Linked DNA regions of Homo sapiens. The protein of the gene in region 3 purifies or fractionates together with the protein of the main gene of each other region. This does not show direct contact. Each region holds a gene or a part of one and is shown on either strand. Other genes may lie near its edges. The genes, in order: MPRIP, ACIN1 and DOT1L.

Evidence for each region.
Region 1: the proteins of DOT1L (region 3) and MPRIP purify together in Homo sapiens (affinity purification with mass spectrometry, with the first as the bait; one study listed by BioGRID). This does not show direct contact.
Region 2: the proteins of DOT1L (region 3) and ACIN1 purify together in Homo sapiens (affinity purification with mass spectrometry, with the first as the bait; one study listed by BioGRID). This does not show direct contact.

Annotation. Positions count from the first base shown.
Region 1 is NC_000017.11:17,167,887-17,171,536, forward strand, and holds part of MPRIP (myosin phosphatase Rho-interacting protein), read left to right. Parts: coding exon 1-29; intron 30-3,650. UniProt on the Homo sapiens protein: Targets myosin phosphatase to the actin cytoskeleton. Required for the regulation of the actin cytoskeleton by RhoA and ROCK1.
Region 2 is NC_000014.9:23,061,101-23,064,286, reverse strand, and holds part of ACIN1 (apoptotic chromatin condensation inducer in the nucleus), read left to right. Parts: intron 1-29; coding exon 30-182; intron 183-709; coding exon 710-851; intron 852-1,212; coding exon 1,213-1,358; intron 1,359-1,763; coding exon 1,764-1,871; intron 1,872-2,011; coding exon 2,012-2,119; intron 2,120-2,664; coding exon 2,665-2,989; intron 2,990-3,102; coding exon 3,103-3,186.
Region 3 is NC_000019.10:2,166,933-2,170,582, forward strand, and holds part of DOT1L (histone-lysine N-methyltransferase, H3 lysine-79 specific), read left to right. Parts: intron 1-3,650. UniProt on the Homo sapiens protein: Histone methyltransferase. Methylates 'Lys-79' of histone H3. Nucleosomes are preferred as substrate compared to free histones. Binds to DNA.

The DNA.
Region 1 (3,650 bases), on a different chromosome or scaffold from region 3:
AGTACCAGAGGGACTTGGAGAGCCTTAAGGTCTTAACGCCCCATTCAATTTGCAGAGCAGATCTTCCTTGATAATGGGGTGGGTGTGGGGACGTCTGGCTCAGCTACCGTGCAGGCAGAATTGAGGGGATATGCTGCTGTCCCTCTACTTGCTAGCCATGGTGTGGTCTCAGCAGGGCCTGGGCCGCAGGCTTAGCCTCTTGTTCGGCATCCCCCAGTGTCCTCCACCAGGAGGAGAACTAGCAGGAGGGCCGCCAGGGTCCCTGGTGGGAGAGGAGCACGTAGTCTTCCCAGCACTTCCCTGCCTGCCTAATGCGGCCTCTCCGTGTTCCTGAGAGCAGCCCCCAATCCCCTTGCCAGCCTTGCCTCCTTCCTGCCCCTGCCCCGGGAACCCCGTCTGGCCCAGTCCCAGCCCAAATCTGAGGCAGCTGCCTGAGGACAGCCTTGTACTCACAGCAACACCCCGGAGAGCCAGGGCCCAGTTGGAGGGCAGTCTCCTCCTGATTGCCCTAGGAGAGCACAGTCGGGCGGAGGGTCCCTCTCTGGAACTGGCATTTGATGTGTGCTCTGGTGAGAAGAACTTTCCCACGGAGCACAGCCTCCAGCCACTCCTGTCCCCTTCCCCAGGACCTTTACAAGTAGATTTTCCCCAGAACTGTCCTGCATCCCCGCCCCTGAGGTCCTGGAGCACAAAGGCGAAATGCCAGGCCCTGGAGGTGGTGGTGGGCTGAGTGGAGGCCCAGCTGTCTGGCCCCACCCTTTGTAGCTGCAGGCCACACCCACCATGTGTGGCTGTCAAGCATCATCCCTTAGACTCAAAAGTTTACCATGATACCTGTGCCCTTATGTTCCTTCCACTCAGGAAGCTGCCCCAGTAAATGACTAGGATGACTAGGCCCCTCAAAAGCCATGTTCAGGTGGTGCCTTCCACGCTCATGTGGCAGAGCCAGGCGCGCACACAGCCAGCACCATTGTGCTGCAAGCTCCTGACTCCCAGGTGGCTGCCACTGCTCCTGCCTACACATCCTCACAGCCACTGTCTAGCAGGACACCTGTTTTTCCCAGCCCGTTACTCCTGTAGCTCTGAATGGAAACAGCAGCTCACATGTCACCTCTGTGTGACGGACTCGGCCCCACCCAGACACACAGGTGTGGTTGTCAGCGAGCACCTCAGGAGAACTGAGAAGCTCTTTTTCACCATTCTTTCCCCAAATCAGTCAAAACCTTTTAAAAACCATTATGAGTTGTGAGAAGGTTTCAACAGCTATGTTTTCAAAGTGTGTGTATATGATGGCACTGTGGTCAGTTCACCAAGAGCAGCACTGAGATGGGTGGATCCAGGTGCACCTTGAAAAGTTAATTGCACAAACCTTTGCTTTGACCCCAAATACGCTTGCTAGTGCCCTTCCCTGCAGCTTCCCAGACAATCAGCAGGGTCCATGGGGGCAGGGCCTGGGCACAGCAATGCCCTGCTTCCTGTCTGCATCCATAAGAGGCCCCTCCACACCGAGGCTGCTTTAGGTTAGCCAACCAGGTGCAGGGGAGGCCCCATGCAGGTGCCATTATACCAACAGTGAGCAAGAAATCAGAAAAAAGAGGACTGCCTTATGTTGAGAACTGACCAGAGATTGTGCTGGGCCAGTGTCACTAGGAGGGAGAAACAGATGATGCAGGTCGGGATGAGGCCCCTCCCAGGGGCTTGGACACTGTCCACTCCCTGCTGCCTTAGCTGCCGTTGCATAGTGTCCCCTCCTGTGCCTGGGAGCTTCTAGCCCAGGTGTGGTGTTCTCACCCACCCCTGCAGACTTACAGAACTTGTAAATAGACAGCACCTTGAGATTTCATCACTTTATGCAGATTTCCACTTGGGTCGTTGGGGACAGGGTCTTGGCCTAACAGCCGTCCTCTGACATCCACAGGCTCCCACCACACCACGATTGCAGTCATCGGGGAACTTCTTTTGGTGTCAGGAATGATTGGCTTAAATTAACATTTGTTTGCAAGATCAATTATTTTTTAGCATATAGTTTCTCTCCAAAGAAGCAACTAGGTCTTTAAAGATGTCCCAGTGCTTCTGTTAGATTTTTGACTCTTACCTGCATAATATTCCAAAGCACTCAGATCAAAATAAGACTTTTCCCAGCAAGTAGACTCAAAGAAAAAAAAAAAAGACTTAAAAGATCTATTAATACTAGTTGTGCTCGTTTTAGCAGCATATATACTAAAATTGGAATGATACAGAGAAGATTAGTATGGCCCCTTTACAAGGATGACACACAAATTCATGAAGTATTCCATATATATATATATTTTTTTTTTTTTTAATTAAAAAAGACCTATTAGTTAAATGTGTTAACTGAGAAGCCACATACAAACAGAAGCGAGTGGGAGGAAGAAAGAAGAGCTCAACCTTGGGGCCTGAGGACCAGGAGCTCCAGAGCTCCGAGCTCCTGCAGCCGTCCTGAGGTGTGAGGGTGGCAGAAAGAGACAGATGCTTCCAGGTGGAGCCGCTGGGAGAGGGGATGGGACGCCTAGTTAATAGTGGCAATAGCTGAGACATTCACCCAGAGCAGCACATAGGTTGCAGTCAAGTCCAGACTGACCACGAGTTTGGAAATACTGCCTGAGGCTCTCAGAGTTGGCCATCACCAAAAGTGGGCCCAGAGAAAAATGCCCAGGCATGCTGATAGGATTTCTTGGTATCCTTTCTTGAATCCACATGCAAGAAGATTAACCAAGTGGTGCAGGCTATCAGCCCAGAGTGGGGAAACCCCCACACTTGAATTTGGAATGGAATGTGGCCACGTTCTTCCAGTTTTTAAAACTCAGCGAGAGGCCCAGTCCCTTCTCTGAAGCAGACCACTTGAAGGATTTAGACAGAAAGTGTGTGCCTCCGTGCTCAAAATAGCTGCACACCCACCCTTCCCGGCAGCTGTGCAGCACGCTCACCTGCTTTGTTAGTGAGCACAGCTCTGATAACCAGGCCTGGGCTTCCTGGTGTGGCTTGCTCCCATCCTGGGGCATGCCTATGTCGCTCTAGGGAGGCACAGGAGAGTTTGGAAAGCAGGTCTCCTGTCATGTACTTGTTAGAGTTAGCAGAGGTGCTAAGTCATTGGTGCCCTTCTTTAAGAAAAGAGTAAGAAAGAAGACACAGGCTAGAAGGAAGGGGAGCCTGTAGCCTGATCTTACTCCCTCAGTCAACACCTGAGCATTAAGTGACCAGCTGGAGGTTGTCAGCTGGCTAGTGGCAGAGTCCCAACCCCCAGCTCCCAGAAGTGGACTCTATGTACCCCCAACCCACTGTGGGTTGAGAGGCTCCCAGCCCGGTGCCCGCCAGGCCACTCCCTATATGTGGAATGGCCTTGGTTCCCTCCAGCAGACAAGTCCCTCATCCCTGTTTTACGGGCCTTTCACCGTGTCCCTCCAGACCAGACACAGCCAGCCTCTGCCCACGTGCTCTCTCTTCCTTCCTGTGGGTCCCACCTGGCAGCAACGCAGGAAGGTCCAGGGTTGGCTGGTTTCCATTTCATAGCAGCCTGTCCCCACCTACCATACCAACTTCTCCCAGGAAGAAATGGGGCACAGTACAGTCACAGAAATAAGAGGTAGAGTTGACTGGTAACACCCTTTTCTGAATGCTCTGATGGCATT
Region 2 (3,186 bases), on a different chromosome or scaffold from region 3:
TAACGGGGTGGGGGGTATCTGTGTCCCAGAGCCTCATCCCCGACATCAAACCCCTGGCGGGGCAGGAGGCTGTTGTGGATCTTCATGCTGATGACTCTCGCATCTCTGAGGATGAGACAGAGCGTAATGGCGATGATGGGACCCATGACAAGGGGCTGAAAATATGCCGGACAGTCACTCAGGTAAGGCTTCTGCACCCCAGTGTCAGGGGAAAGGTGGGAGCAGTAGATGCAGAGCAGCTAGCTGAGGAGCTGAGATAAAGTCTTTGGAGGGAACTTCCCTGTCTGTGCAGAGGGTTGGGTTGACTGACACTTTCAGGGGTCAGACTACCAAATCCAGCTGGCTACCTGTTACAAATAAAGTTTGATTGGAACACAACCACACGAGTTCATTCACTTTTGTCTGTGGCTGTTTGTTCACTACAACATCACCAGAGTTGAGTAGTTGCAACAAACTATGTGGCCTGCAAAACCTGAAGTACTGCTTTGCTCTACAGAAAAAATTTACTAACTCCTGTCTTAGTTTTCCTCAAGGCAAAGTTGAGGCACTAACAATCCCAGGATCTGGTAGAAGTGAGCCGATAACGAAATACCCCTAGCGGAAGGAACATGCTAGATTGACTGCTACTCTTACCGGGGAACCAGAGGCTGAAAAGAATATGCCAGTTTGGTGTTTAACAGACCTGCTGTGTTCTCTGACACCTTGATAGGTAGTACCTGCAGAGGGCCAGGAGAATGGGCAGAGGGAAGAAGAGGAAGAAGAGAAGGAACCTGAAGCAGAACCTCCTGTACCTCCCCAGGTGTCAGTAGAGGTGGCCTTGCCCCCACCTGCAGAGCATGAAGTAAAGAAAGGTGAGTGACATATTGTGAGAGAAATGTAATGCGGCTCCCTGAATTCTCAGAGCACCTCATTTGGATCGCTGAAAGCTTTGAATGTTTCCTGCCTTTCATTATATTTTTTCGTATATCATATCTTTCTCCTACATATTAAGTAAGCTACTTGAGGGCCAGATTTGACTCTGTTTAATCTTTGAATCTCCATGATGAGGAGGTTAGCCTAGCACAGTACTTTGCAGATTATAGGTGCTCTGCACGTTTAGATTAAGGAGTGGCTGCTTGGTATAAAAGAAAGGGAACCGTGAGAGTTACATTGAGGGTGAAAAGAGCCAGTATTGCTTCCTACCAAAAGCTGTTCTTGTGGTCTTCTTGATAGTGACTTTAGGAGATACCTTAACTCGACGTTCCATTAGCCAGCAGAAGTCCGGAGTTTCCATTACCATTGATGACCCAGTCCGAACTGCCCAGGTGCCCTCCCCACCCCGGGGCAAGATTAGCAACATTGTCCATATCTCCAATTTGGTAAGTCATTGTTTCTCACCATCCCAGCTTGCTTAGTGGTTAAGTTTGAGCTTTAGGCTTATGCCTCCTAGGTTCCACTCATAGTTGAACTGGTCTACCAATAGATTAAGTTACTCACTGATCTTGAGTGAGTTACTTAACATATTTACCCATCTAAAAATGAGGGGGAAAAGCTGTTGCCCTGCAGGGTTGTTTTGAGGACTTGCAGAAGGCCTCACATACAACGTCTCAATTAGTGCTGGGAAGCACCACCACTCTTCTCACATTCTTACTGCAAGGTTCCTAAACTCTCTGCCCTCCCCCAAACCTTGAAACTATACTCCTGTGACAGCAGCTCGGGAAATCTAAAGATTGGGTGGTGGTCTTGCCTTCTGCTAGACCCTGAAAGTCTATTTTCATTGGCAGGTCCGTCCTTTCACTTTAGGCCAGCTAAAGGAGTTGTTGGGGCGCACAGGAACCTTGGTGGAAGAGGCCTTCTGGATTGACAAGATCAAATCTCATTGCTTTGTAACGGTGAGGGGAAGAAGCTGATTCTATAGGTCATGGCATATATTTCCTTTTGTGACCAGTGTGGGCAGGTTTAAGGGTGTTGCAGCACGTGGGAAGGGTTGCAGACACACTGTGACCCTCCATCTTCTCCCTTCCTCCACCAGTACTCAACAGTAGAGGAAGCTGTTGCCACCCGCACAGCTCTGCACGGGGTCAAATGGCCCCAGTCCAATCCCAAATTCCTTTGTGCTGACTATGCCGAGCAAGATGAGGTAAGAAACCTAGGGAGAGGAAAGAGAGGAGGGGCAGGGGAAGCCATTATCTGCTAGATTTCAGCTGAGATCCTTGCCAGACCTGCAGTCTCTGAGCTTCTGTTCTTTTCTCTTCTTCCCTGGCTTTGGTTCCTTTAATTGTACCATGGGGCTTCAAAGTGGTACCTGGGCTCCTTTTTTTTTTTTTTTTTTTTTTGAGACAGAGTCTCGCTGTCTCCCAGGCTGGAGTGCAGTGGCGCGATCTCAGCTCACTGCAAGCTCCGCCTTCCGGGTTCACGCCATTCTCCTGCCTCAGCCTCCCGAATAGCTGGGACTACAGGCGCCCGCCACCACGCCCGGCTAATTTTTTTGTATTTTCAGTAGAGACGGGGTTTCACCGTGTCAGCCAGGATGGTCTCGGTCTCCTGACCTCGTGATCTGACCGCCTTGGCCTCCCAAAGTGCTGGGATTACAGGCGTGAGCCACCGCGCCCGGCCATCCTGGCTCCTTGAGTGGGAGTGATATCACCTCTATCCTAACTGTCCTTGTCCCTCCTCTCCCCACAGCTGGATTATCACCGAGGCCTCTTGGTGGACCGTCCCTCTGAAACTAAGACAGAGGAGCAGGGAATACCACGGCCCCTGCACCCCCCACCCCCACCCCCGGTCCAGCCACCACAGCACCCCCGGGCAGAGCAGCGGGAGCAGGAACGGGCAGTGCGGGAACAGTGGGCAGAACGGGAACGGGAAATGGAGCGGCGGGAGCGGACTCGATCAGAGCGTGAATGGGATCGGGACAAAGTTCGAGAAGGGCCCCGTTCCCGATCAAGGTCCCGTGACCGCCGCCGCAAGGAACGTGCGAAGTCTAAAGAAAAGAAGAGTGAGAAGAAAGGTAGGTACTTAGCTATGGGGTACGCATACCCACTAGTAGGTGGGAAAGGGACCCAGATGGGATGGGACAGAGGGTCAGATGCATCATATCTGGTTCACTTTTTTCCACCTCAGAGAAAGCCCAGGAGGAACCACCTGCCAAGCTGCTGGATGACCTTTTCCGAAAGACCAAGGCAGCTCCCTGCATCTATTGGCTCC
Region 3 (3,650 bases):
TCAGAAAGTTGGCTGAATGGAATCAACAGCATGTTGCCCTTTGGTCCTGGTGGCTTTCAGGCGGCCAAATCCGTGTTGCTGCAGGTTTCAAAAGTTACCCCATTTTTTTGCTGACTGTAAATCCATTGGACAGTTGGGCCACAGATTGTTGACGTGTTTGCCTGTGGGTCACAGGACTGTGGGCTGTTTCCAATTTTTGGTGATTAGAATAAACCCGCACTAAACACCACTGGCGGGATTTTTGGTGAAAGTCAGTGTTCGCGTGGCGAGGTTCTCAGGGGTGGACCGCACGGCCTGTGCTAAGCGTCTGTTTAACATCTGCATCCCAACAGTTGCCACTTGTCAGTGCTAAGAAACCCACTGGAACCCAGCGTCGGGGCCTGGGGTAGTGGTCTTGCCAGGGACCCTTTGCCTTTTCCTTGGTACTGAAGTGAACATTCACGTGAAGGCAGCCCTGGTGTCCCCGCCCGCATGCCTGCTGCCCTGCCTGGCCAGTGCTCCATTGTAAATAGTAAGGGCGAGAGCTGGCGGGAGCGGGCTTTCTAGTGGTGGGCGGGACTGTGCCGTGTCTTTCCCTCCCTGGCCAGGCCCTGGCTTGGCAGGGTGTGCTGGTCCTGGCGCCGTCTACGGCCTCTTCCTGCTCTGGTTGGCCCACTGCCGGGCCCAGCATCTTCATTCGCCCAAGTGCCAGAGGCAGCCTTCTGACAACCTCGCCGTGACATTTGTCATTTTCTGTGTTCCCGTTGAGGAATTTTGCTTTCTCACAAGAAGTGAGGGGTGGTTCTGATTTTCTTTTCTTTTCTTTTTTTTTTTTTTTTTTTGAGACAGAGTCTTGCTCTATCGCCCAGGCTGGAGTGCAGTGGCACAATCTCCACTCACTGCAAGCTCCGCCTCCCAGGTTTCAGTGATTCTCCTGCCTCAGCCTCCCCAGTAGCTGGGATTACAGACCTGTGCCACCATGCCTGGCTTATTTTGTATTTTTAGTAGAGACAGGGTTTCACCATATTGGCCAGGCTGGTCTCAAACTCCTGACCTCAGGTGATCCGTCCACCTCGGCCTCCCAGAGTGCTGGGATGACAGGCGTGAACCACCGTGCCCAGACGCAGCTGCAGCAGCACATTTATTCATGATTCATTCCAACAGCAGCTACTGAATACTCAGTGTTGTGGGGGCACAGAGGACAACAAGCCAATATTCTCCCCCCGCCACCGCCCCAGCATTCTTAGTCTCAAGAAACCTGTCAAATGAAGACAGGCCGGGCACAGGGGCTCATGCCTGTAGTCCCTGCACTTTGGGAAGCCCAGGCGGGAGGATTGCTTGAGCCCAGGAGTTTGAGACAAGCCAGGGCAACATAGGGAGACTCCATCTCTACCAAAAAATTTAAAACAGTGAAGTTAAGTAGATTATAAATAGAAGTTCAGCAGAGATACTGTGCTGAGTACAAGGTCAGCTGAGGTCCCCAGGGAGGGGCTGCCACTTCTGCCCTGGGGGACCTGTGGGTGGCTGCTTGGAGGAGGGGCCATCCGGAGGAGGAAGCAGAAATAGCCACAACTGTCCACGCTCGGAAATGAGCAGTTCGGAAGGGGTTTGCCCAATTGGCAAACGCAAGGGGGAGGAAGGGAGATTTTTATTCTTACATGACCTGGGAGTTCCTGGATAACCGCTTTTCTCAAGCCCCGCATGGCATTTCTTATTTTTTTGAGAGGGAATCTCGTACTGTTGCCTGGGCTGGAGTACAACGGTGTGATCTCGGTTCACTGCAACATCTGCCTCCTGGGTTCAAGTGATTCTCCTGTCTCAGCCTCCCCAGTAGGTGGGACTACAGGCACCCGCCACCACGCCCAGCTAATTTTTTGTATTTTTAGTAGCGACAGGTTTTCACTATGTTGGCCAGGCTGGTCTCGAACTCCTGACCTTGTCATCTACCTGCCTGGGCCTCCCAGAGTGCTAGGATTACAGGCATGAGCCACCGTGCCTGGCCCTGCGTGGTATTTCTAGGGCAGGATGGCCCTGCCCTTCTTCTAGTGGGAAGGGCACAAGTGGCATTATTGGTTGTTTGCTCGGAAAGAACCTTCAAAGGCCACAGAACGGGACCTTCCCCCTGGTGACTCACAGGCTGTGGGCGGGCAGGGGCGGCCTCCACTGGCCAAGGGTCCGGACTCTCTGACTCTCATTAATGAGTGAGTACATGTTCCGCCTGACAGCCTGGCCTGGAGCCCGGCTGTGGGCGGCGGTGAGTGGGCAGCCAGCAGTGAGTAGCAGCCGGGGCGGGGTGAGCTGTCCCCACCGTGACTCAGAAGGTATTTTCTGCTGCTGACCTCTGAGCTTGAGTGTCCTGAGTAATCCCAGCTCCCCCGGAGGCAGATTAACCTTTAGGCAGCTTTGTGTGAGTAAAGGAGTCGCTTTAAATAGGAAGGAATAATAGAAAAAACCCAAGTGTTCCGTTTTATAGCAAATGCACACTGCTTTGTTCCTGCTGGCCTGAAAGAGGTTGCAGGGGGTACTGGGGCGGGGAATTGTCCAGAAACTCTGCAGATGATACAGGGACACTCCAGCCTAGCCTCTGAGGAGAGTTTTTTTTGAGACGGACTCGCTCTGTCTCCCAGGCTGGAGTGCAGTGGCCCAATCTCGGCTCACTGCAGCCTCCGCCTCCTGGGTTCAAGTGATTCTCCTGCCTCAGCCTCCCGAGTAGCTGGGATTACAGGTGTGAGCCACCACGCCCAGCTCTTTTTTTCCTTTAAAAATCTGCTTGTTATCTGCTGCTCATCAGAGTGTATATTTGGGGTAATTCGAGCCTGTGCTCCCAGGTTGCAGTCCTCAAATGTGGCCCAAATAAATGCTCCACTTATATTAATTTTGCTCCAGTTCCTTTCCTTTAGCTCGACAGTGTGAATCTACAATTATCTTAAAATAAAAAGTTTAATTAAAAAAAACACACGGTTGCCCAGGCACGGTGGCTCATGCCTGTAATCCCGGCACTTTGGGAGGCCAAGGCGGGCAGATCACCTGCGGTCAGGAGTTCGAGACCAGCTTGGCCAACATGACGAAACCCCGTATTTACCAAAAATACAAAAATTAGCTGGGCGTGGTGGCGGTTGCCTATAATCCGGAGAATTGCTTGAACCCGAGAGGGGGAGGCTGCAGTGAGCTGAGATCATGCCATTACACTCCAGACTGGTCGACAGAGTGAGACTCTGTCTCAAACAAACAGACAAAATTAGATAAAGGAAAAAAGAATTTTTGTTCAAGTAATATTGGCCATTGATGGCTGCAAATCACTCTTGGTGTTACAGATTCCAGGAACAGGAAGATAGTGTCCGAGACCAGGATGCAGGAACAGATAGATGCCTTTCCACGCTTGCCCCTGGTGTGGTTGGGAGGCGTGACTGAAATCCTTGCTCTTGTCTCTCTGGACCTGATGCATTTTGCATGCCTCACTGGGCACGGACTGCTTGGAGCTGTTTTTATCTTCCAGCAGTGTGAGGTGTAGGAAGGACCCAACACGGTTCCTCCTGTGCTCTCCGCAGTCAACACAGAGGAGTTGCGGAACCAGATACGGGTACCCGGGGATTCATCAGTTCTGTGTTTCCTACTGGGCAGCCCCGATTCAACTCACTTCCAGCATGTCTACCTCGACACAGGCTCAGATC